2 separate regions of the Homo sapiens genome follow, and region 2 is linked to region 1. Evidence: fine-mapped expression QTL. A gene starts in region 1. The other region holds a variant in brackets. All regions are shown on one strand. Distances are between the middles of the regions.

The links.
Region 2: its variant is fine-mapped to the expression of CRLF3 in tibial artery (GTEx, PIP above 0.99).

What each region holds. Positions count from the first base shown.
Region 1 is chr17:30,815,487-30,831,678 of GRCh38, forward strand. It overlaps CRLF3 (cytokine receptor like factor 3), which reads right to left and starts at 9,206. Exons shown (of 8, transcript NM_015986.4): 1 at 9,037-9,206. The coding sequence starts at 9,165. It also overlaps the pseudogene RPS17P3. RefSeq lists a silencer at 9,118-9,497 and enhancers at 9,205-9,499, 15,440-16,075, 16,076-16,192.
Region 2 is chr17:30,776,306-30,787,805 of GRCh38, forward strand. It overlaps CRLF3 (cytokine receptor like factor 3), which reads right to left. Exons shown (of 8, transcript NM_015986.4): 7 at 9,614-9,726; 8 at 6,379-8,138. The coding sequence ends at 7,882. It also overlaps the pseudogene SUZ12P1. Among named protein-coding and RNA genes, the nearest start is that of CRLF3, 43 kb to the right of the region's middle. The variant G/A (reference allele first, on the strand shown) is at 7,790.

The sequences.
Region 1 (16,192 bases):
GCTGGTATTACAGGAGTAAACCACCCTGCCCGACCAGAAAATGGCTAGTTTCTTCTTTTTTTTTTTTTTTTTTTTGAGATGCAGTCCCACTCTGTTGCCCAGGCTGAAGTGCAGTGGCGCAATCTCGGCTCACTGCAACCTCTAACCCCCAGGTTCAAGTAATTCTCTTGCCTCAGCCTCCTGAGCAGCTGGCATTACAGGCGCACCACCACACCCACCTAACTTTTTTGTATTTTTAGTAGAGACGGGGTTTCACCATGTTGGCCAGGCTGGTCTCGAACTCCTGACCTCAGGTGATCCGCCCGCCTTGGCCTCCCTAAATCCTGGGATTACAGGTGTGAGCCACTGAGCCCGGCCAGAATGGCTTGTTTTAATTCTCCTTGACCTCCTTCTATATTTCTGGGGAGTTTTAAACTCAACCAGCAGCTTTCAGAGTACCATATTTAAAGATGATTTCTGTACATTGGTGTTGTTCAGGAAATAAAAAGTTAAAAAAAAAAAAAAGACAATTTGTAGGCCGGGCATGGTGGCTCACACCTGTAATCCCAACACTCTGGGAGGCCAAGGCGGGCAGATCACGAGGTCAGGAGTTCGAGACCAGCCTGGCAAATATGGTGAAACTCCGTCTGTACTAAAAATAGAAAAACTAGCCGGGCATGGTGGCATGCACCTGTAGTCCCAGCTACTCGGGAGGCTGAGGTGGGAGAATCACTCGAACCCGGAAAGCAGAGGTTGCAGTGAGCCGAGATCGCACCACTGCACTCTAGCGTGGGTGACAGAGCAAGACTCCATCTCAAAAAAAAAAAAAAAAGACAACTTGTAAAAAGATTTATTGGTGAAAAGACTGACTCAAAAACCAATGTAAATATGTGGTCTTTTGCAAACAAATACAGTCAAGCATCACATAATGATGTTTTGGACAATGACAATCACATACATAATGGTAGTCCCATAACATTATATTACTATATTTTTATGTCTTTACTGTATCTTCTTTCTTTCTTTTTTTTTTTTTTTTTTTTAGACAGGGTCTAGTTCTGTTGTCGAGGCTGGAGTACAGTGGTGTGATCATGGCTTACTGCACCCTCAGCCTCCTGGGCTCAATAAATCCTCTCACCTTTGCCTCCCGAGTAGCTGGGACCACAGGCATGCACCACCACACCTGGCTAATTTTTAATTTCTTTGTGGAGATGGGGGTCTCCCTATATTGCCCAGACTGGTCTCAAACTTCTGGGCTCGAGATCTTCCCGTCTTGGCCTCTCAAAGTGCTGGGACTACAAGTGTGAGCCAGCATGCCTACTGCACCTTTTCTATGTTAGATGCACACTTACAGTTATGTTACAACTATCTACAGTATTCAGTATAGTAACATGCTGTACAGACTTGTACCCTAGGAGCAATAGAATATACCATATAGCCTAGGTGTGTAGCAGATGATACCATCTAGGTTTGTACAATGACAAAATCGCCCAATGACACATTTCTGAGAATATATCCCTGTTGTTTTGACTGTATATGTGTGGCTTTTATTTTTACCCCCCTTATTTGCAATTAGTTTTGCTTCCAGTATTTTGGGGTACCAGAATCAATACATTGCAACCTACCACCAACAAATGTTCCTTTAAATATCTACAATAGACTCCACCTCTGTATTAAAAATGAGGCTGTGGGACAGGCACAGTGGCTCACGCTTGTAATCCTAGCACTTTTTGAGGCCGAGGTGGGTGGACAGCCTGAGCTCAGGAGTTCAAGACCAGCATGGGCAATATGGTGAAACCTCCTTCTACTAAAAATACAAAAAATGAGCCGGGTGTGGTGGCATGCGCCTATAATCCCAGCTACTCAGGAGGCTGAGGCAGGAGAATTGCTTGAACCCGGGAGGTGGAGGTTGCAGTGAACCAAGGTGGTGCCACTGCACTCCAGTCTGGGTGACAAAGTGAGACCGTCTTCAAAAAAAAAAGCTTTGCATGGGAAAAATATTCTTGTAAATGCTTATGATGTTACCAAAATTCTTATAATGCTAACAAAATGCTTATAATGTTAATAAAAATTAAAAATTGATACAAAGTTGCATATACAGTAGTCTCTCAACTTTGCAGAATAATATGTATAGAAAGATACATCAAAATGTTAACTGCAGGCCAGGCAGGGTGGCTCAAGCCTGTAATCCCAGCACTTTGGGAGGCCGAGGAAGGTGGATCATGAGGTCAACAGATGGAGACCATCCTGGCCAACGTGGTGAAACCCCATCTCTACTAAAAATACAAAAATTAGCTGGGTGTGGTGGCAGGCGCCTGTAGTCCCAGCTACTCAGGAGGCTGAGGCAGGAGAATGGCTTGAACCCAGGAGGCAGAGGTTGCAATGAGCCGAGATGGCGCCACTGCACTCCAGCATGGCGACAGAGTGAGACTCCATCCCAAAAAAAAAAAAAAAAAAAAAAAGTTAACTGCAGTTGTCTGTAAGTAGTAGGTTATTTTAAAACTATTTCATCTGGGCTGAGTGTGGTGGCTCATGCCTGTAATCCCAGCACTTTGGGAGGCCGAGATGCGCGGATCACCTGAGGTCAGGAGTTTGAGACCAGCCTTCACCATGGTGAAACCCCGTCTCTACTAAAAATACAAAAATTAGCTGGGCGTGGTGGCGGGCACCTGTAATCCCAAGTACTCAGGAGGCTGAGGCAAGAGAATTGCTTGAACCTGGGAGGTGGAGGTTGCAGTGAGCCAAGATTGAGCCATTGCACTCCAGCCTGGGCGACAAGAGCGAAACTTCATTAAAAAAAAAAAATTATTTCATCTGTTCTTGGTTTTCCCTGTATCTGGATTTAACCTTTTCTTAGAATACTATAATAGGGACACTTTAAATACTACTACTGTAACAAATTATACACAGATTTTTGTAGTGTTTTCAAAATGGGTAACAGAAGGGGAAGTGGGAGATAAAAGGAGCAATAATGGCTTTCTTTTCTTTTCCTTTTTTTTTTTTTTTTGAGACAGTTTCACTCCTGTTGCCCAGGCTGGAGTGCAGTGGCATGATCTCGGCTCACCGCAACCTCCGTCTCCTGGGTTCAAGCAATTCTCTTGCCTCAGCCTCCCGAGTAGCTAAGATTACAGGCGCCCACCACCACACCCGGCTAATTTTTGTATTTTTAGTAAAGATAGGTTTTCATCGTATGGGTCAGGCTTGTCTCAAACTCCTGACCTCAGGTGATCCGCCCGCCTCAGCCTCCCAAAATGCTGGGATTACAGGTGTGAGCCACCACGCCTGGCCAACAGCTTTCTTTTCTTTGCTAAGCTACTGAGACTTCCTGTCTTGGTTTTTTGAAATAACTTTTGAGTGTTTTTTTTTTTTTGAGACAGTCTTCTTCTGTTGCTGAGGCTGGAGTGCAGTGGTGCCATCTTGGCTCACTGCAACCTCCATCTCCCAGGTATAAGCAATTCTCCTGCCTCAGCCTCCAGAGTAGCTGGAATTACAGGTGCATTCCACCACACCTGGCTAATTTTTTTTACATTTTTAGTAGAGACAGAGTTTTGCCATGTTGAAGGCTGGTCTCAAACTCCTGATCTCATGTGATCCACCCGCCTCGGCCTCCCAAAGTGCTGGGATTACAGGCGTGAGCCACTGAGCCCAGCCACCAACTAGTATCTTAATTAGGTACCAGGATCTTACCATTTGCTCTTGAAGGAGCAGAGACTTGCTTTTGTCAGTGTCCTGAGAAATACTGAATCAGAATACCAAAAGGTACATGAAAGCCAACATAGTCATTTTATAGAGTGAACTACAACACACAGACTAAAATACTGGCATTTCTCACTGTAGACACCTCCAGTACCTCAACTAATTCCCCTTTGATAATGTACCAAGATGAAGTTTTTGGACTTACAAAGATTAAAGACCAGGCCCTGACTTTGGCATTGTCATCAAGGTGGTGCCACTCTGTGAGGCCTGAGTGGCCAGCTGACATCACTACGTGACATTTTGATCAGTTATCTCTACTTACGTTTTTGTTTTTGAGATGGAGTCTCGCTCTGTCGCCCAGGCTGGAGTGCAGTGGTGTGATCTTGGCTCACTGCAACCTCCGCCTGCCCGGCTCAAGCAATTCTCCTGGCTCAGCCTCCTGAGTAGCTGGGACTACAGGTGCACGCTACCACACCTGGCTAATTTGTATTTTTTTAGTAGAGACGGGGTTTCACCATATTGGCCAGGCTGGATCTCTACTTATAACAAACAGAAAGGCCAATGCTGTAGAAATAGGACAAGTGATGAAAGATATAATAGAAGTGAAATATAAAAATGAATACACAAATAGAACTTATATTTTTCTTACTTGTTTTGTTTTTAGGGGTAGTAACCTAAGTATCAGCCACCAAAGGAAAGAGGAAAGCATAAATCCATGAGGGCAGTGATCTATTTCCTTGAACACAGAATCTAGGACCTAGAAGTTTCTCAGCCCTACAGTAGGCACCCAATAAATATTTATTGAGTGAATGAACAAATGAATATTTAAGGACAGTGGGAGTTAATTTCTTTGGTATTTACATCTTAGTACCAAGGATTCCAGTGAGCTATAGAGAACTATTCTTAATGATTTCAACATCAGCTAGGCCAAGTTGGCTGTAAACATTATCTGATTTCCTGAAGACAATGAACAGCTTTCTAGCCTTTAACTTATTCAAACATTAAGAGTTAACAGACAATCCTTGCATTCCTACACAGAACTTCCTTTTCTCTGAAAACAGAGGGTAGAGCCCAAACTTAACCACAAGAGGAGAAACTGCTACATGTTGGCAGTTTTGACAGAATAACTTAAAAACATTTTTATTCTTCTTCCTTCTAAATGTTCATACAACATGATTTCTCAATACGAGACAAATTTCATGCTAGAGTTTAAAGGATAAGAAACTAAAGCAAAGACAAAAGGTAGGCCAGATGCAGTGGCTCACACCTGTAATACCAGTACTTTGGGAGGCCGAGGCAAGAGGATTGCTTGAGCTCAGGAGTTAGAAATCGGCCTGGCAGCTGGGCACGGTGGCTCACCCAGGCACGGTGGTAATCCCAGCATTTTGGGAGGCTGAGGTGGGCAGGATCACCTGAGGTGAGGACTTCGAGGCCAGCCTGGCCAACATGGTGAAACCCTGTCTCTAGTAAAAATACAAAAAGTAGATGGGCATGGTGGCAGACGCCTGTAATCCTGGCTATTCGGGAGGCTGAGGCAGGAGAATCTCTTGAACCCAAGAGGCGGAGGTTGCAGTGAGCCTAAGGTTGCAGTGAGCTGAAGGTTGCAATGAGCCAAGATTGTGCCACTTCACTCCAGCCTGGGCAAAAGAGCGAGACTCTCTCAAAAAAAAAAAAAAAAAAAAAGGAAGAAACTGTCTGGGAAACACAGGAAGACATCATCTCTACTAAAAAAAATTAAACAAAATTAGGCAGGTGTGGTGGTGTGTACCTATAGCCCCAGCTACTTGGGGATCTGAGACAGGAGGATGGCTTGAGCCTAGGAAGTCGAGGCTGCAGTGAGTTCTGATCATGCCACTGCACTCCAGCTTGGGTGACAGAGCAAGACTCTGGCTCAAAAAAAAAAAAGAGGCTGGGTGCGGTGGCTCAAGCCTGTAATCCTAACACTTTGGGAGGCCAAAGTGGGTGTTCATCTGAGCCCAGGAGGCTGGACAACATGGCAAAACCCCATCTCTACCAAAAATACAAAAAATTAGCCAGGGGTGATGGCACGTGCCTGTAGTCCCAGCTACTCGGCACACTGAGATGGGAGGATCACTTGAGCCTGAGAGGCAGAGCTTGCAGTGAGCTGAGATTGTGCCACTGCACTCCAGCCTGGGTGACAGAGTGAGGTCCTTTCTCAAAAAAAAAAAAAAAGAAAAAAGGAAAAAAAGTATGCCAAGAGTTTCTGAAAAGGTTAAACAAAAAGTTACCATGTGATCCACCAATTCCTAGCTATATTCTAAAACAACTGAAAACATGTCCACACAAAAAGTTGTCTACAAATTCTTTACAGAAGCATTATTCATAATAGTCAAAAGTGGAAATAATCCAAATGTCCATTAATTGATGAATGGATAAATAAAATGTGGTATATCCACATAACAATTATTCAGCCATAAAAAGGTTTGAAGTACTGTTACATGCTACCACATCAATGAACCTTGAAACATTATTCTAAGTCAAAGAAGTCAGTCACAAGGGGCTACATACTGTATGAGTTCATTTATATGAAATGACCAGAATAGGCAAATCCATAGAGACAAAGTAGTTTTGTGGTTGCCAGGGGGTATGGGAGTGACAGCTAAGGAGTTCTTTTGGGGGTGATGAATATATACTTGAATTAGACACTGGTGATGGTTGGACAACTCTATGAATATACTAAAAACCACTGAATTGTAAACTTTAAGGCATGACTTTTACGGTGTGTGAATTATATCTCAATAAAAAAAGTCACATGCCAGGCAGCACAGTGGCTCACACCTGTAATTCCATCACCGGAAGGCAGAGGTGGGAGGATCTTTTGAGCCCAGGAGTTGGAGACCAGCCTGGGAAACGTAACAAAACCCTGTCCGCACCCCCGCCAAAAAAAAAAAAAAAAAAAGAAAAGAAATCATCTGCCAAAAAGATATAAAATCAGCAAGTAAAAAATACAGACGACAGGTGGCATCCCTTCCTCTCTGCTCTTCTCATGCTTCTCCCATGCAAAATCCTTGACTAAAGTGCCATATATTTTACAGTTATTCTGAAAATGACTGGAACCCTAAAAATATCCAAACCACCAAACAAAAGCAGCTGCTTACTTTGATAATATTTTTGTACCATAGACCTTCCTTAAAATGCAAGTTGACAGAGGACTTATGCCACAAACCCAAACATGCACAATCCACTAGAGTTAGCTTCGAGAGATGCTGTTGTAACTGCCACTGGCACAAAACACATTCCCAAAAGAGACTCACACTCACAAAAGAGAACTACATTATTACTCAGTCTAGTCAGAAGGCAATGTCATCAGGAACCTAATTGTGATCGATGTTCATTTAGTGTTTTCTGTCTGAAGCCCAAGACAATGGGCCTCAAAAACAAAACAAAACAAAGCTCATAATAAACTAAACCACAGAAAAGCATGTCCTGTATTTAAATTGTTGGATATAAAATTGAAAAAATACAGGTTTGAAAATTGAATACTGAACCATCTAGGGTGTAATCACGATTTTTTTTAATGCATCCAATATCAAGAGAAATTAATTACTCCCAGGTGCTAAACTCACTCATTTAGTGTCAACTCTGATTCTTAATTGCTAATACAAAAACAATAATCATGGTCATATAGAATACATCTTAACTGACTGAAATGTTAGATGGTATTTTAATATCTTTCTTTTCATACAATGTCTTACATCTAGAGTCCCTATTTCAAAATAGCAGAAGGAATAATGCAGATATTTTCAAAGAGAAATAGAGATGAGTGCATTGAAAGGCCTTGAAAAGTATTCACCAAATCAGCATAATCATATCTAGATTCTGCTTCCGGTTTCGCCACTAAAATGCAAATGATGTCTGGCCTACACTGGCTTTACAAATATTTTTAAATATATAAAACCCGGCCGGGCGCGGTGGCTCACGTCTGTATCCCAGCACTTTGGGAGGCTGAGGCAGGTGGATCACGAGGTCAGGAGTTCAAGATCATCCTGGCCAACCTGGTGAAACCTCCTCTCTACTAAAAATACAAAAATTAGCCGGGTGTGGTGGCGCAGACTTGTAATCCCAGCTACTCAGGAGGCTGAGGCAGGAGAATCGCTTGAACCCGGGAGGCGGAGGTTGTTGCAGTGAGCCGAGATAGTGCCACTGCACTCCACCCTGAGCGACACAGCCAGACTCCGTCTCAAAAAAAACAGATTATATATATACATACTTATATATGTTTGTATATGTTTTATATATATATATAAAACCCAAAACATGTTGAGTCGTTAATGATGAGAATATCCAAAGACACTGTTAGCACAGCACTTTTCTACCATTTTCAGGTTATATGCAGCAAGGAAGTGCTAAGACGACCAACTAGATTAATATCAAGTATGACCCAGAGAAATTCAGATGGAATCCCACTCACTCAAAAAGCACTTATTAAGCAGTTGCGTTAATAGTACTCTGAAGATTATCCGTCCTATCGCCAATTGGCAGCGGGTTATATCTTTTTCTATATATATTCGAGGGTATAGAGAAACCATATGGCTTTCCTGTATCTTTGATAACTCTTGCCCTGTGAAACAGATAACTGCACCACTTGAAATTATATTTAGCTTTTCCTTTCAGCACTCCTCTCTTAAAATCTATTTTTCCATTTCTCTATACCTTTGTATTCCCTCTCTCAAGGAAAAGGAAATCATTTTCCTTCTGCTCTTCCAACATAGCTTCACCTTCACCTTAAATTTTAAACCTTCTAGAACAGGATTACTCTAAATGATTTTTTAAAAAGCATTCAAGATCGTATGACATATTATTCAGGCATTAACCGCATTTATTGTCAAATGCTACTGCTTCTCAATCCCTACCTCTCCCTCACTCTCGCCCCTTAGTCCTCCCCTTCCAATATCCATTTTGTCTCCACTTTCAGCTCTCCCAGGTCACTGTCCCACCTCTTCCTCAGGCTCTCTAAAATCAATGCCTCCCCGCCTACCCACCGCAGGTTTTTTACCAGTCTCCTCCTCCCCCGACTCATCACTACCCGCATGACCCCCTCGGATTCTGCTCTGGTCCCTCACTCTCCCAAACTTCGGAGGCCACCGCTACTCCCATCGCTGCCCCACAGTTTAGTGAACGCTCCTCACACCCTCCCTCCACCCCCAAAACTTCCCCTTACGACCTCCCCAACTCCCACCTTCCCCGTTCCCAGACTCCATTAGGTCTCCTTTCAAATGAATGCCTCTTCCCTACTCCAGAGTTTTCGGACAGTCCCACCCCTCAAAGCCCTCCCAGCCTTCGCCCGGCATCCGCGCCACCCCCGGGCCCACAGCGCCCCTGTGGGTGTGGCCCTCCGACCTGCCTCCGCGCCTCACGCAGCCCCTCAAGCCGGTGACCCAGCTCCCGCCGGTAGCTCTGCGCTGCCTCCACGTTCTCGCGGGCCTCCTGCAACAGCAGCTCAGGCTCCAGCTCCATCGCCCCCCTCATCTGGCCGCGCGGCCGGCGAAACCTAGCGCGGGTTCCCGACTGCACCGGGCGCCTCCAAGCGGCCCGGCGCGGCCTCGCGCAGGCGGAAGCACCGCCCAGCCCCGCCGCCCCATGCCCCACGACGACCTTGATTGACGGGCGCACGGCGGCGCCTCGCGCGGGTGGCGTCCGGGTCCCAGCGCCGCCCGCCCCGCGGCTCACCCCGCCTCTTCCGTGCTGCGGCACAGCGCCGCTGGTTGGGCCTCCTTGGGAAACGTGCTGAGGCCTGGCAAGGTTGATAACCCGCACCTTGCCAAGTGCTTCTCACAGCTCATCGCATTCTTGCCTGACCTTCAGCCCTACCTGTATCTCCATTGCTCAGATGAGGAAATTGAGGGATAAAGGGGGGAATCGGCCGGGCGCGGTGGCTCACGCCTGCAGTCCCAGCACTTTGGGAGGCCGAGGCGGGCGGATCCCTTGAGCTCTGGAGTTCGAGACCCAGCCTGGGCAACACGGCGAAACCCTCTCTCACCAAAAATACTACTACTATTACTATTACTACTACTACTACTGCTACTACTAGCAACACGTAGTGGAGCACGCCTGTGGTCCCAGTGGATCGCTTGAGCCCGGGGGCCGAGGCTGCAGTGAGCTGTAATGGAGCCACTGCACTCCAGCCTGGGCGACAGAGCGAGACCCTGTCTCTAAATAAAAAATACTTTTTTTTAAATTAAAAATTTTAAAAAATAGCGAATCGACTTTTCCAAGCCGCAGAATTTGAGCCCAGATCTGATGACAAAAGCCCTGGTCCTTAAGAGCAGAGCAGGCCTTAGGGGAATTTACTAAGACCCAGGTGTCAGCGGGGAGCAGTGGCTCACGCCTGTAATCCCAGCACTTTGGGAGGCCGAGACGGGTGGATCACTGAGGTCAGAAGTTCAAGAGCAGCCATGGCCAACCTGGTGAAACCTCATCTCTACTAAAAATACAAAAATTAGCCGGGTGTGGTGGTGGGCGCCTGTAATCCCAGCTACTCGAGGGCTGAGGCAGGATAATTGCTTGAACCGGGAGGCAGAGGTTGCAGTGAGCCAAGATTGTGCCACTGCACTCCAACCTGGGCAACAAAGCGAGACTCGGTCTCAAAAAACAACAACAAAACCCAGGTGTCACCACCCAGAAGCTCGTGGACGAATGGGGGATCCAAGAGAGAGGCCCAAGAGATGACCAGCAGGACAGCAATTCTGGCACAAGTCCAAGAAGGGTGTTGGCAAGTGTTATCTGTAAGGACCGTAGTGAATAAGCTGGGCTTGGGCTTGCCAGACCGGAAGGTATCTGTCACAATAGGTGTGACTGTATGTAATAAAACCTTATGGGCAGGGCATGGTGGCTCACACCAGTAATCTTGGGAAGCTAAGGCAGGAGGATTGCTTGAGCCCAGGAGTTTGAGACCAGCCTTTGCAACATGAGGAGACCTCCTCTCTACAAAAAGATTTAAAAAAAAAATTAGCCGCGGGTGGTGGCGCCCTCCTGTGGTCCCAGCAATTCAGGAGGCTGAGGTGGGAGGATTCCTTGAGCCTAGGAGTTAGAGACCAACCTGGGTAACATAGCAAGACCCTATGTCTATAAAAATAAAAATAAATAAATAAATAAGTAAAATTACAAGGAAAACTTCCATAAAACCAGGACATGAATCTTGGTCTCATTCAACTTTGTTTTCTTAGTCTGATGGAAGGCAAGAAGTGTGTATCTAACATATCTACACTATACCCAAAAACAAAACAAATAAGAAAATTGAAGGAAATATTCTAAAACTGCTTACCCCTAGACTTGACATTTTTAGATGCATTGTTTTTAAATTTAGAGCATGAATTCCTAAAGAGTAAATGTTCTCGAGGAAACTGGTTTAGAAGTAGATGTCAGCTAGCCATCAGACAGAGTTTTACAGAGATATCTCCATGGCATCACATTGGTCCAGAACTGACTTTTCAAGTGTACCCAGAGGATTCCAGGGAACAGACTCTTGCTAATAAGACTCACAAGAAACAAACTAAGCAGCTTGCCAATTTATTTATTTACAACAGGAATATAATTGTTGAAAAAAATCACAATAGCTGGAAAATCAAGTTATAACCAGAGAGTTGGATTCAGATCAGAATACGTTGGTCATCTGGTCAGCAAAGGCTTTTTCCCTCTCCTGTCTCCAACCTCTTCTCAGAAAGCTCCTAACTGGGCTGGGTGTGGTGGCTCATGCTTGTAATCCCAGCACTTTGGGAGGCCTAGGTGGGTGGATCACGAGGTCAGGAGTTCAAGAACAACCTGACTAACAGGGTGAAACCTCATCTCTACTAAAAACACAAAAAATTAGCCGGGCTTGGTGGTGGCGCGCACCTGTAATCCCAGCTACTCAGGAGGCTGAGGCAGGAGAATTGCTTGAACCCAGGAGGCAGAGGTTGCAGTGAGCTGAGATAGTGCCACTGCACTCCAGTCTGAGCGACACAGCAAGACTACGTCTCAAAAAAAAAAAAAAAAAAAAAAAAAAAAAGAACGCTCCTAACTGTACTGGACACATAGTTGACAATTTTTTGCTCTCTGACTCCACCTTTCATTCCAGCTTTTTTTTTTTGAGACAGGGGCTTGCCTGTCACCTGTCACACAGGCTGGAGTGCAGTGACACAATCAGGGCTCACTGCACCCTTGATCTCCTGGGCTCAAACGATTCTCCCACCTCAGTCTGCCTAGTAGGTAGGATTATAGACACCTGCCAGTAGACCCAGACACTTCTTTAATTTTTTTGTTTGTTTGAGACAGAGTCTCCCTCTGTCGCCCAGGCTGGAGTGTAGTGGCACCATCTCGGCTCACTGCAACCTCCACCTCCTGGATTCAAGCAATTCTCCTGCCACAGCCTCCAGAGTAGCTGGGATTACAGGCGCCCACTACCACACCCAGCTAATTTTTGTGTTTTCTTTTTTTGTTTTTGTTTTTTTGAGATGGAGTCCTGCACTGTCACCCAGCCTGGAGTACAGTGACATGATCTCGGCTCGTTGCAACCTCCGCCTCCCTGGTTCAAGCGATTCTCCTGCCCCATTCTCCTGAGTAGCTGGGATCACAGGCACTGGCCACCACGCTCAGCTAATTTTTTGTATTTTTAGTAGAGACGGGGTTTCACTATGTTGGTCAGGCTGGCCTTGAACTCCTGACCTTGTGATCCGCCGGCCTCAGCCTCCCAAAGTGCTGGAATTATGGGCGTGAGCCACCACACCTGGCTCTAATTTTTGTATTTTATTAGACATGGGATTTCACCAAGTTGGCCAGGCTGGTCTTGAACTCCTAACCTCAAGCAATCCATCCACTTTGGCCTCCAAGTGTTGGGATTACAGGTGTGAGCCACTGCACCTAGTCTTAATTTTTTTTTTTTTTTTTTTTTTGAGATGGAGTCTTGCTCTGCTAACCAGGCTGGAGTACAGTGGCACGATCTCGGCTCACTGCAACCTCCGCCTCCCGGGTTCAAGCAATTCTCCTGCCTCAGCCTCCCAAGTAGCAAGGACTACAGCTGTGAGCCACCACTCCCGTTAATTTTTGTAGTTTTAGTAGCGACTGGGTTTCCCCATGTTGGCCAGGCTGATCTTGAACTCCTGACTCCAGATGATCCACCTGCCTCAGTCTCCCAAAGTGCTGGGATTATAGTTGTGAGCCACTGCTCCCGGCCTCAGCCTTACATTTTTTTTTTTTTTGTAGAGGCAGGGTCTCTGTATGTTTCCCAGGCTGATCTAGAACTCCTGGGCTCAAGCAGTTCCCTGCCTTGGTCTTCCAAAGTGCTCTGATTACAGGCCTGAGCCACCATGCCCCACCCATATTTTTTCTTTATTTTCTTCCTTTCTTTAATTTTTTTGAGACAGAGTCTCACTCTTATGTCATCCAGGCTGGAGTGCAGTGGCGCGATATCAGCTAACTGCGACCTCTGTCTCCCGGGTTTAAGTGATTCTCAGCCTCCTGAGTAGCTAGGATTACAGGCGTGCGCCACCACACCCGGCTAATTTTGTATTTTTAGTAGAGATGAGTTTTTCACTATGTTGGTCAGGCTGGTCTTGAACTCATGACCTAAGGTGATCCACCTGCCTTGGCCTCCCAAAGTGCTGGGATTACAGGCGTGAGCCACCCCGCCCAGACAACAATAACGATTTTTAAAAGTAGGTGTTAGACACATGGGGAAGATAATCTGAAATGACATGGGCACTCTGTAAACTGTGAATTGCTTTACCATGTGAGAGTTCATTTAGATTAAAATTGATAAAAGCCATGAGCTCCTAAATAAGGGTTGGTAAAATACTATGTATCTAAAACTACTCAGTGGAAATGCTTAACAACTTAATGCAGTTTAAATGCTTTGTAACTCAGAAGAATAAAAAGCACTAGAGAACACCGTATATAACCCAACAATCCCATTTCTAGATGTGAATCCTAGAGAAACATTACACGTGTTGAAGAAAACATGGACAAGACTGTTCATTGCCTCAGCATTTGAATAACAGAAAATTGGAGACAATTTAAATATTCATCAGTAAGGAAATGGATACAGGTGGCTCACCTGTAGTCCCAGCACTTTGGAAGGCCAAGGAGGGAGGATTGCTTGAGCCCAGGAAGTTCCAGACCAGCCTGGGCAACATGGCAAAACCCTGTCTCTACAGAAAATACAAAAATTAGCCGGGCATTATGGCGAACGTGTTGTCCCAGCAAATTGGGAAGTTGAGGTGGGAGGATCTCTTGAGCCAGGGATGTGGAGGCTCCAGTGAGCAGTGATCACGCTACTGCACTCCAGCCTGGGTGACAGAGTGAGATCCTGTCTCAAAAAAATAATAATAATACAACCTGGGCAACATGGCCAAACCTCTTCTCTACAAATACAAAAAATTAGCCGGGCGTGGTAGCGCACTCCTGTAGTCCCAGCTACTTGGGAGGCTGAAGTGGGAGGATTGCTTGAGCCCAGAAGTTTGAGGCTGCAGTGAGCAGAGATCATGCCACTGCACTCAAGCTTGGTGACATAGTGAGACCCTGTCTCAAACACAAAAACAAAACAACAACAATAAAAATGATAATAATAAGGAAATGAATAAATAAAATGAGTTGCATAAATAGAATGTTCAGGAAAGAAAGGGAATGAATCAAATCTATATGTATCATGGATGGCTTTTGAAAAAAGTGTTGAATGAGGCCTGGTGTGGTGTCTCACGCCTGTAATCCCAGCACTCTGGGAGGCCCAGGCGGGCAGATCACGAGGTCAGGAGTTCAAGACCAGCCTGACCAACATGGTGACCCATCTCTACTAAAAATACAAAAAAAAAAAAAAAAAAAAAAAAAAAGCCAGGCATGGTGGCACGAGCCTGTAATCCCAGCTACTCAGGAGGTTGAGGTAGGAGAATCGCTTGAACCTGAGAGGTGGAGATTACAGTGAGCCAAGATCGCGCCATTGCATTCCAGCCTGGGCGACAGAGCCAGACTCCGTCTCAAAAAAAAAAAAATAAATAAATAAATAAAAAGTTGAGTGAAAAAAAGCAAATTGGCTGGGCACAGTGGCTCACTCCTGTAATCTCAGCACTTTGGGAGGCCAAGGCAGGTGGATCACCTGAGGCCAGGAGTTCCAGACTAGCCTGGCCAAGATGTTGAAACCCTGTCTCTTAAAAATACAATTAGCTGGGCATGGTGGTACGCACCTGTAGTTCCAGCTACTTAGGAGGCTGAGGCAGGAGAATCGCTTGAACCGGGGAGGTGGAGGTTGCAGTGAGCAGAGATTGCGCCACTGCACTCTAGCCTGGGTGACAGAGCCAGACTCCACCTCAAAAAAAAAAAAAAAAAAAAAAAAAGCGCGGTGCCGGACGCAGTGGCTCAAGCCTGTAATCCCAGCACTTTGGGGAGCCGAGTTGAGCAGATCACCTGAGGTCAGGAGTTCGAGACCAGCCTGGCCAACATGGCGAAACCCCGTCTCTACTACAATACAAAAATTAGCCCCGCATGGTGGCACGCGCCTGTAGTCCCAGCTACTCGCGAGGCTGAGGCAGGAGAATCGTTTGAACCCGGGAGGCGGAGATTGCAGTGATTCGAGATCGTGCCACTACACTTCAGCCTGGTGCAACAGAGGGAGACTCCGTCTCAAGCAAACAAACAAACAAACAACAACAACAAAAACGATGCACTCAAACAAATGTAACATGCTGTATTTAATGTAATTGCAACTTTAACGTAAAAAAAAAAGAGCTATTTTACCAAGGACCCACCAACATGGGGCGCGTTCGCACCAAAACCGTGAAGTAAAGAAGGCGGCCCGGGTCATCATAGAAAAGTACTACATGCGCCTGGGCAAAGACTTCCACACGAACAAGCGCGTGTGCGAGGAAATCGCCATTATTCCCAGCAAGAAGCCCCGCAACAAGATAGCAGGCTATGTCACGCATCTGATAAAGCGGATTCAGAGGGGGCCAGTAAGAGAGAGGTATCTCCATGAAGCTGCAGGAGGAGGAGAGAGAAAGGAGAGACAATTGTGTTCCCGAGGTCTAAGCTCTGGATCAGGAGATCATTGAAGTAGAATCCTGACACTAAGGAAATGCAGAAACTTTTGGACTTCGGCAGTCTGTCCAACCTGTAGGTCACTCAGCCTACAGTTGAGATGAATTTCAAAACGCCTCGGGGAGCTGTTTGAGTCTTTCTGTAATGCTGTAATATTTTCGATAAACCTGGGACAGTGAAAAAAAAGAAAAGAGAAAAAGTAAAGGCTAACCAAACCCATGAAAACAATGCAAATGATGCATGAGATCAGAAACCAGCAAACTACTGGTAGGTACCCTGCGAGGACTGAACGCAGGCCAACCAGATGAAGCAATGACTCGGCTGTTCGAGAGGATGGAATCCACAGAAAGAAATGCCTTCTTAGTCGAATAGGTACTTCGACTTTTATAGGTATAAAAGTCGAATTTCGGATCCTGAGAGGACGTATATTGAGGTGGAAAGCTCGCCCAAATATTAGCATTTTATTGTGCATGGTAACAATGTAAATCAATTA
Region 2 (11,500 bases), 42 kb before region 1:
GCTTTTAGATGGGGAATATGAAGTAGCCATGCAGGAAATGGAAGAATGTCCAATAAGCAAGAAAAGAGCAACATGGGAGACTATTCTTGATGGGAAGCTATGGACTACTTAGAAGGTTGAGCACATTATAGTTATGAACTCCCATTTTTGATTGATGTTTTCTTCCCCAAATGCTAATTCATGTTGGAAGTAGAGGCCTTTGTTTTTTATACTTTAAAAAACACAAGTAAATGATCTAGTCAGAGCATTTAACGGAAGGTATCATTCCTTTTTTTTTTTTTTTTTTGAGGGGGAGTCTTGCTCTGTTTCCCAGGCTGGAGTGCAGTGGCATGCTCTCAGCTCACTGCAACTTCCACCTCCCGGGTTCAAGCGATTCTCCTGTCTCAGCCTCCCGAGCAGCTGTGATTACAGGTGCGTGCCACCACGCCTGGCTAATTTGTTTTATTTTCAGTAGAGACGGGGTTTGACCATGTTGGCCGGGCTAGTCTGGAACTCCTGACCTTGTGATCCGCCCACCTTGACCTCCCAAAGCGCTGGGATTACAGGCATGAGCCACTGCACCCGGCCACACGGAAGGCATCATACTTTGAGAGCCAGACTGCCTGATTGAAATCTCTGCTCCTAGCTATGTGGCATTTGGCAAGTTATTTATCCATGTCTCAGTTTCTTCACCTGTAACATGAGACATAGAATTGATGGATTAGATGAAATAATAAAATATTTAGTACAGTGCCTGGCATACAATAAGTGCTCAATAAATGTTAACGGCTATTTTAAATTCTATTCATTGTAATGGCAGATAATAAGGGATGACTAGTAATACATTTATCAAGAAATCTGCAGAATTTAGATTAAGCATACTTAAAATAACTCTTAAGAGATAAAGAGGAATCCATACATTTCTTAAATAGGGAGATTCAAAACTGTAATGATGTCTTTTATTTCTAAATATGTTAGGTCAGTGTACCATCCGATGCAAAATCTCATAAGGATTTTTTTAAGTCTTAAAATTAGTTCCTAGTTAATCTAAAAGGATAAGTATTTAGTAATACTAAGGGAAATTTTAGAAAAATATTTTGAGAATTTTTACTTACCAGTTTTAGTATGATATACAATATACCGTTGTACATACCATAAAGTTAAGAGAACTTAAACCCTATGGTATAACCATAGGAATAGATATGCTTATCTATTCAGGCATAGTCCTGAAATAGTTTATGATAAAGGTGTTGGTATAGCTATGTGAGAAAGAGAAACTGTTCATTAATTGTGACAACTCTTCTCCAGTCATCTGGAAATAATCTTAGGCCTAATACATTCTGGAAGGCTCATAAACATGTAAAAATGAACATTCATAAGCATGGAAAAAAAAATAGGTGAATGTTAATATATTTAATATATTGCAGTGAGGAAGACCCTTCTAAGGATGATTGAAAAGTAAGAAAGCATAAAGTAAAAATTGTCGGGTTAAAATTAGTCATTTTTATACTGCAAAATATCTAAAGTTAGAAACAAATTATGGAATGGGGGAAATATCTGTAACACAAAATGCTAATATGAATACATAATATTGTGAATTATGAAACAAAAAGATACACAGTCTAATAAGAAATATGTGTGAAGGACTATCACGCAGTTCTTAAAAAAACAAAGAGATGGCCAGCAAACTTTTAAAGCAGTACTCAACCTTATTAGTACTCAAAGGCATGCAAATGCAGAGATACTACTTTTGAGAGTTTGACAAAGATTAAAAGTTTGACAGTTTCTAGTGTTTTAGGGACGTGAGGACACATATACTCTCAAATAATATTTTGATGTAACAGTTGGGGGCCGGGCTCAGTGGCTCATGCCTGTAATCCCAGCAGTTTGGGAGGCCAAGGCGGGTGGATCACCTGAGGTTATGAGTTTGACACCAGCCTGGCCAACATGTCAAACCACATCTCTACCAAAAACACAAAAATTAGCCAGGCATGGTGGCAGGTGCTTGTAGTCCCAGCTACTTGGGTACTTGGGAGGCTTAGCAGTATTACTTGAACCTGGGAGGCAGAGGTTTCAGTGAGCTGAGATTTTGCCACTTCACTTTATCCGGGGAGACAGAGCAAGACTCTGTCTCAAAAAAAAAAAAAAAGGTTGATACAGTCTTACTATAGGGCAGACTGGCAATATATATAAAGTTAAAATTGTATATATAGTCTTTAACAATTCAAATTTTATATTTTTGTCACAATGTAACTTGTTAACAAAAGATGTAGGTAACAGGTTTTCTCAGCATTTTTTAAATAATGAAACGTTAGAAACACGTTAAATCTAAAAAGCTATTAAAAAGGATGATAGTTTGACAAGATTTCCATATTAAATTTTTACATAAGTGTGTATATATATATATATATATATTTTCCCTCTTTCTAAAATTTATAATCGTGGTTAACTCCAGGTGATGAGATTTCAAATAATTTTTATCTATACTCTTTGGGTTTTCTGTATGGATTTATCTTTATGATCTTTTTCATTTTAAATTTCTTGTTTTAAAGTATGTTTTTATTCATGAGACTATAAGGATTATATATATGAAGGGTTTTTGTTGTTGTTGGTTTTGTTGTTGTTTTTGGATTTTTTTGTTTGTTTGTTTTGTTTTTGAGATGGAGTTTCACTCTGTCACCCAGGCTGGAGTACAGTGGCACGATCTTGGCTCACTGCAACCTCCGCCTCCCAGGTTCAAGCGATTCTCCAGCCTCAGCCTCCTGAGTAGCTGGCATCACAGGCGCGCACCACCATGCCCAGCTGATTTTCGTATTTTTAGTAGAGATGGAGTTTCACCATGTTGGCCAGGCTGGTCTCGAACTCCTGACCTTGTGATCCGCCCACCTCGGCCTCCCAAAGTACTGGGATTACAGGCATAAGCCGCCGTGCCCGGCCTGGCCTTTTTTTTGTTTTTTTCTGTTGAGATGGAGTCTCGCTCTGTCACCCAGAGGTGGAGTGCAATGGCACGGTCTCGGTTCACTGCAACCTCTGCCTCCTGGGTTCAAGCAATTCTCTTGCCTCAGCCTCCTGAATAGTTGAGATTACTGGCATGCGCCACCACGCCTGGGGGTTTCACCATGTTGGCTTGGCTGGTCTCAAACTCCTGACCTCAGGTTTTCCACCCACCTTGGAGTCCCAAAGTGCTGGGATTACAGGTGTGAGCTACTGTGCCCGGCCTATCTGGAAGCTCTTAACCCTGTAAAATGGGCATCCTTTTAAGTCAGAGCATATAGATTTACTTCTTTTTAAACGTTCTGAGTTTTTTTGTTTTGTTTTGTTTTTTTGGGTTCCTTAATTGACTAAACCAGTGCTGGTCTAATAGATAAGTGGGTTATTTGATTTTTTAAAATCTTGTCAAAAATGTTAATAGTGATTATACTTGAACCTGTATCAAGTATTTTATAAGATAAATTCCTGTGGAGTGCTGTGTCCAAACTAGTCTCTGAACACACTTTTACTACATTCTAGTCTAAATAGTTTTTTGAGATGGAGTCTTGCTCTGTCGCCAGGCTGGAGTGCAGTGGTGCAATTTCGGCTCACTGCAACCTCTGCCTTTCAAGTTCAAGCAATTCTCCTGCCTCAGCCTCCTGAGTAGCTGGGATTACAGGCGCCTGCCACCACGCCCGGCTAATTTTTTTGTATTTTTAGTAGAGACGGGGTTTCACCGTGTTAGCCAGGATGGTCTCCATCTCCTGACCTCGTAATCTGCCGGCCTCGGCCTCCCAAAGTGCTGGGATTACATGCGTGAGCCACTGTGCCTGGCCATTTATTTTTACAGCGAACTACATTTGCCACTGTACTCCAGCTCGCTGTAGCCTCAAGCTCCTGAACTCAAGTGATCCTCCCACCTTAGCCTCCTGAGTAGCTGGCTAATGCCTGACTATGCCTGGCTAATTAAAAAAAATTTATTTTGGTAGAGATGGGGGTCTCATCATGTTGCCCAGGTTGGTCTTCAACTCCTGGCTTCAAGCAATCCTCCCACCTTGGCCTCCCAAAGTACTGGGATTACAGGTGTGAGCCAGCAGTCCCGGCCAAACTTGCTAATTTTAATTTGTGTCTTTTTGCTTTACTAAATAGTAACCATGAGTGTTCTGAGCTTTTCTGAGTTCTGTGAGTCCTGGCAAATAATTGAAAGTGAAAGTGATCTTAAGCACCCCTGAACACATTTACCACGCATGGCCCACTTGCATTCATCTGGTATTGGAGGGAAACAAATTTCTAGAGTTTCAGTTGCTACTTTTCAGTTGTTCCATGGTGCTTTCCAGGAGTTCCAGTCGATGATATGGGGTTTCGCCTGTCATCACATCTGTCAGGCTTTGCGCCTTCTTCATCCTGCACAGACACTGAGATCATGCAGGTCTTGTATCTGTTTGTAGTTCGTCTTCACTAGCTTGTATTTTGGGATTTGAGGGGGTAAGTGGTCACCTAGTCTTACTGTAGATATTATCCAGGGGATTTTGCTTTTGTTATCTATCTAGTTGCTCTATTTCTTTGTTTTGTTTGTGTTTATTTATTAAGAGATGGGGTCTACCAATGTTGCCTAGGCTCACTGCAACCTCGAATTCCCAGGCTCAAGCAATTCTCCCACCTCAGTCTCCTGAGTAGCTTTGGAACTACTGGTGGGCACCACAACACCTGGCTAAATTTTTTTTTTTTTTTTTTTTTTTTTTGAGACAGAGTCTTGCTCTGTTGTCCTGGCTGGAGTGCAGTGCCAAGATCTTGGCTGACTGCAGCCTCCACCCCCCGAGTTCAAGCAATTCTCCTGCCTCAGCCTCCCATGTGGCTGGGACTACCAGCGTGCGCCACCACATCCAGCTAATTTTTGTAATTTTAGTAGAGACAGGGTTTCACCATATTGGTCAGCCTGGTCTCGAACTCCCGACTTCAGGTGATCCACCAGCCTAGGCCTCCCAAAGTGCTGGGATTACAGGTGTGAGCCACCACACCCAGCCAAATTTTTTTTTTAAGTGAATAAAAAATGGCTAGGCATAAGCCACCATGCCCAGCCAAAAAATCAATTCTTGTGATCATATCATCACACAAACTCTTCCCTCCTAGCACATAGGTTTGGAGTACTAGGTTCCCTTACTTACTTGAACAGAATGATTTTTTTTTTTTTTTTTTTTTTTTTTTTTGAGACAAAGTTTTGCTTTTGTTGCCCAGGCTGGACTGTAATCATGTGATCTCAGCTCACTGTAACCTCTACCTCCCGGAGGGTTCAAGTGATTCTCCTGCCTCAGCTTCCTGTGTAGCTGGGATTATAGGCATCTACCACCATGCCCAGCTAATTTTTGCATTTTTAGTTGAGACGGGGTTTCACCATGTTGGCCAGGCTGGTCTCAAAACTCCTGATCTCAGGTGATCCACCTGCCTTGGCTTCCCAAAGTGCTGGGATTACAGGCGTGAGCCATCACGCCCAGCTAATGAGTTCATTTTTTTAAAAAAAATCTTCACAGTTCAAGAAAAAAAGTCAGTATTTAAATTAGTTTCAAGGACAGACACAGTGGCTCACGGCTGTAATCCCAGCACTTTGGGAGGCCAAGGTGGGAGGATCACTTGAGGCCAGGAGTTCAAGATCAGCCTGGCCAACATGGCAAAACCCCATCTCCACTAAAAGTATAAAAATTAGCCAGGTGTGGTGGTGCACACCTGTAATCCCAGCTACTTGGGAGACTGAGGCAGGGAAATCCGTTTAACCCAGGAGACAGAGGTTGCAGTGAGCCAAGATTGCACCACTGCACTCCAGCCTGGGTAACAAAGTGAGATTCTGTCTCAAAAAAAATTAGTTTCAGAGTTCCAAATATTACCACTCCTGTCTCAAATTAGGTTTAAGGCACTCCTGTGAACAGGCAGATTCTATAGGTATAAATTAAGATGTCATTTCCCTAGAGAGGCTAAGAAATAAATACATTCAACAAATATTTGATGAATTAAAGGAATGAGATGAAGATATCTGGAGAAAACGACTCATTCGATCCACCATTCATTCTGCACACATTGTGTCAGGCAAGATGCTCAGTATCAGACACAGAATATAGGAAAGTACAAGTAACCAGCTGGGTGTGGTCACTCATGCCTATAATCCCAGCACTTTGGAAGGCCAAGGCTGGGGAGGACTGCTTGAGGCCAGGAGTTTGAGACCAGTCTGGACAACACAGCAAGACCCTCATTCTCTACAAAAAATATTTTTAAAAAAGTTTTTAAAAGAAAGTACAAGAAGGTACACATACCCTTTCACAAGTCACAGTGATATCTTACTAAAATGCCTGGAGCCACAAGAAGCCTGTTTTCCCTTCAAATGAAAAGTAGGTTAAAACTGGATTCACCAAATCTCACAGAAGAAAAAAGTACACACACTGAACTTTTTTAGTTTTTTATTTTGATTCCTATGGCTGGACAAGGTATCTACATTCTAGAACATCTTCTTAATCCCTAAACAAGTGGAAATCTACTACTTATATATAAAAAGACAAGTAGAAAAGGTCATGATTGTCTAACAGGGAACATGAATCCCCAAATAAATTATCTTACAAAAATATCATACTTGCTTTTCTACTTTTTTACTATACTGGTAAAAATGAAATGAAAAAAATAATTCACATTAAAATAAAATCTGTAGGGTGGCATAGAAGACAATTATTTTTACATATTAAAGTCCTTCAAATAAATATTTTACACACAAATTTAAGTAAGTTTTTAAAAAAAATAAGTATTTACGCTATATTTTTTTGCTCTGCTAAAAAGAGACCACTTATTAAACTGACATTAAACTGGACTGCAGCTCATTCTCTGCAAAGAGTAAAATGCATGTCACAGGCAGATTGGATACACACGTGCATATTACATACATATGAAATGGCTAACACTGCTGTGCATACTACTGCCATAACTAGTTTTACCCTGTAAAAATACTGTAGCCTATACTGTATCAAATTGCAATGAAAGAACAAAAGGTACTACTTGCCTATTTTAGACACTTGGTCAAGCATTTAAAAAAATACAAAAATTGGTCCACTGCAGTGGCTCACACCTGTAATCCTAGCACTTTGGAAGGCTGAGGTGGGTGGAACACCTGAGGTCAGGAGTTCAAGACCAGCCTGGCCAACATGGTGAAACCCTGTCTCTACTAAAAATACAAAAATTAGCCAGGTGTGGTGGCCGACGCCTGTAATCCCAGCTACTCAGGAGCCTGAGGCAGGAGGATCGCTTGAACGTGGGAGGCAGAGGTTGCAGTGAACTGAGATCACACCACTGCACTCCAGCCTGAGTGACAAGAGTGAGACTCCGTCTCAACAAAAAAAGAAAAAGTTATAATGTTTTGGGGACTTAAAGATTACTGAAGAGGGGATAAAAGTCAACACTGCTTACAAATACCTGAACATGGAGAGCACAGTCAACACATTCATGTGGACAGCACATGAACGGATGTATTAATACATTACACAGCTTCTTCTATCTGACCTATTCCTCTTGTTCTAAAGAGTTACATGGACTTGGATCCTTTAAGATGATTTTAAAAATAATATTACATTAAGTTTTCCTGGTCTAATAACCAACTTTGAGAAGTACAGTGGAAGGGTATAGAACTTCCTATATCTTCTATACTTTTAATGCCAATTTGATTTTTATTGTGATGTGATATTTAACAGTATGCTAAAAATAAAATTGACTGAATTGTATGATTTTGTCCACAACATTGAAGTCTCTTTTTGCTAAAATATTACAAAATGAATCCAGTAAACACTTTCCAATGGCCTAAGTTAGAGAT[G/A]AATTCAACTTTTTTTTTAAAGCAATTACAACTACGCTGGGCTGAGGACAGCTACGTTAGACCCTGAAAACCAAAGCCAAGCACCCAAACATCTAAAACACTAACACTTTCCATCCAGGATAGAAAAATGAGCATCCAAAGTAAAGAGAACCACAAGACTGATCAAGTAACCAGTCAAAAACCACTTCTCTATTATTTGAACTTATAGTTACTCGAAGCTTGAAGTGTCCACCTTCATTATTACTGGTGGTTCCTAGAGTCACGGCTTCAATGTCAAACGTGACAGTGGACCCAGAAGTAACTGCGGGTAACTGATTTGTCATTTCTTTTCCATTGACAAAAACTGCACCTAAAATGTTAAGGTAAAGAGTCATTTACATGTGAGCAATAACTAAGAGATCTGAAATAGTTTCTAGATTACTGGTAACACAGCTCATTTCCTAATTCAGATTTTAAAAAATCTGGAATGCCAACTGGACATAGATTTTAGAGTTCTGTCCAGGGTTGTACTCTTCCAGCAGAGACTATGAGTTTCCCATATCAGTGTCATCAAAAGAAACTTGACAGTGTTACAAAATTACCTCCTGTGAAATAGCAAGACTATTTCTTATGGAATAAACAAGAAAGAATCTTGTTCTACCGAATTCTTGACTCACCAACACAATTTTTTTTTTTTTTTTGGAGACAGAGTTTCACTCTTGTTGCCCAGGCTGGAGTGCAGTGGCATGATCTGGACTCACTGCAACCTCCACCTCCCAGGTTTAAGCAGTTCTCCTGCCTGAGCCTCTCGGATTACAGGTATGTACCACCACGCCCAGCTAATTTTTGTATTTGTAGTGGAGACAGGGTTTCACCATGTTGGCCAGGATGGTCTCGATCTCTTGACCTTGTGATCCACCCACCTTGGCCTCCCAAAGTGCTAGGATTACAGGCGTGAGCCACCGTGCCCAGCCAACACCACAAAATATTATTAACATGTCTTGCTAGTGAATTTTTTTTTTTTTTTTTTTTTTTGAGACGGAGTCTCACACTGTTACCTGGCATGATCTCGGCTCACTGCAACCTCCGCCTCCCGGGTTCAAGCGATTTTCCTACCTCAGCCTCCCAAGTAGCTAGGATTACAGGCACCCGCCACCACACCTGGCTAATTTTCTGTATTTTTAGTAGAGACAGGGTTTCACTATGTTGGCCGGGCTGGTCTTGAACTCCTGACCTCGTGATTTGCCCGCCTTGGCCTCCCAAAGTGCTGGGATTAGAGGCGTGATCCACCGCGCCCGGCCTCTGGCTAGCGATTTTTAAAGAGCACTAGGGATGTAGACTGAATGATTTATTATTTGTAGAATTTAGAACAATGCCTGGTACATGGTAGTCACATAAATTATGTCATTAAGACCAAAACTTTCAGCCAGCCACGGTGGCTCACGCCTGTAATCCCAGCACTTTGGGAGGCCACCAAGGTGGGAGGATTGCTGGAAACCAGGAGTCAAGACTCACCTGGGCAACAACTTATCTTTACAAAAAAGTAAAAATAAAAAAAATTAGCCAGTCACAGTGGCATGCACCTGTAGTCCCGGCTACTCAGGAGGCTGAAGTGGGAGGATGGCTTGGGCCCAAGAATTTCAGGCTGCAGCGGGCTACGATCATGCCACTGTACTCCAGCCTGAGTGATGGAGTGAGACTTCATAATAAAAAAAAAAAAAAAGAAAAAGAAAAATACCTAAATTTTCTCATCTCCTACTATAAATGTATGGAACTGGAACAGATTCACATATTACTAAAATAATTAATATATTTCCAAGAGAATGACAGTTATTTATCTCTTACCATTTGTACTAATGCACACAGCTTGATCCCGCTGCAGAGAGTCATATCCATCCTGTTTTTCTGCACACACTCCTATGCTATCTCTTCTGTCTGGCTGTCCCACAGTTTCAACTCTGTAAATGAAGTAGAAAGGTCATTTCATACTTTTAAAAATATAACATGAATGATACTTAACAGCCACTAGCTTAAAAAGAGCAATCTCACCACAATTGTTTTTTTCTAAATAGTACAGCAACCATGATTGAGTTCTTGCTATACTCCAGGCACTGTTCTAATTATTTTATATCTATCTATCATTCTTACAACAATCTATGAGGTAGGTGCTTTTTCTTTTTTGTTGAGACGGAGTCTCGCTCTGTCACCCAGGCTGAAGTGCGGTGGTGCGACCTTGGCTCACTGCAACCTCCGCCTCCCGGGTTCAAGCAGTTCTCTGCTTCAGCGTCCCAAGTAGCTAGGATTACAGGTGCCCGCCACCATACCCGGCTAAGTTTTCTATTTTTAATAGAGATGGGGTTTCACCATCTTGGCCAAGCTGGTCTTGAACTCCTGACCTTGTGATCCACCCACCTCGGCCTCCCAAAGTGCTGGGATTACAGGCGTGAGCCACTGCGTCCAGCCGGTAGGTGCTATTTTTAACATACCCATTTTATAAGTGAGGAAAATGAGGCACGAAAAGAAAAAAAGATTAAAAATAGCTAAATAACCTGATCCCGACTACCTGGCTGATGACTGGTGGAACCAGGACTCAAACACAGGCATTCTGACTCTAGAATCAATCAATCTATCTATCTATTTTTTTGAAATGGAGTTTCATCCTTGTTGCCCAGGCTGGAGTGCAATGGCGCGATCTCAGCTCACTGCAACCTCTGCCTCCCTGGTTCAAGCGATTCTCCTGCCTCAGCCTCCTGAGTAGCTGGGATTACAGGGATGCACCACCATGCCCGGCTAGTTTTGTATTTTTAGTAGAGACGGGGTTTCACCATGTTGGTCAGGCTGGTCTCGAACTCCTGACCTCAGGTGATCCGCCTGCCTCGGCTTCCCAAAGTGCTGGGATTAGAGGCGTGAGCCACCACACCTGGCCTAATTTTGTATTTGTAGTAGAGACACGGTTTCACCATGTTGCTCAGGCTGGTCTTGGAACTCCTGACCTCAGGTGATCCACCCTCCTTGGCCTCCCAAAGTGCTGGGATTACGGAGTGAGCCACCGTGCCCGGCCTAGAATCTATATTCTTAACCATTTGTAGCCATGATGGCACACTTCTATTTTATATTCTAGCTCTAGACACATAGAAGGTTTGTCATAGTTGACATTATAATTTATGTAACTATTGCTGCCAGCGCCTAAATCTTCCATATAAGAATTTGCAATGATTTGATTACTATTTGTTAAGTAAATAAAGCATTTAAAAAGAACTATTATAATCCTAAAAAATCCCATTATGGTTATGAAGACACTATTCAAGCATGAAGAACTTCCTATGTGGCAAGTTTAAGCTTTTCCTTTTGTGTTTTCATTTCAGATGTCAGTACTTTGTGTGCTCTTGAAATAGGAAATGTACAGATCCCTATTGCCAGACACATCATTCTCTCCATCCAGAAAGCCAACTTTGCAAGGACAAAAAAAAAAATTAGTGTGAAACAAAATGTGGCTTTTCCAAAGACAGATGTGATTATTTATAGTCAATGTGGCCTCAAAATGTCATTGATTGTGAAATAGCAAACATGCAGGATCATAATATTTGGGTAGGTTTCTGAAGTTATTTCATATCTGAGCAGTCTAAAGAAGTATGGGGAGGAGGGGCCGGGCATAGTGGCTCACACCTGTAATCCCAGCACTTTGGGAGGCCAAGGAGGGTGGATCACCTGAGGTCAGGAGTTCCAAGACCA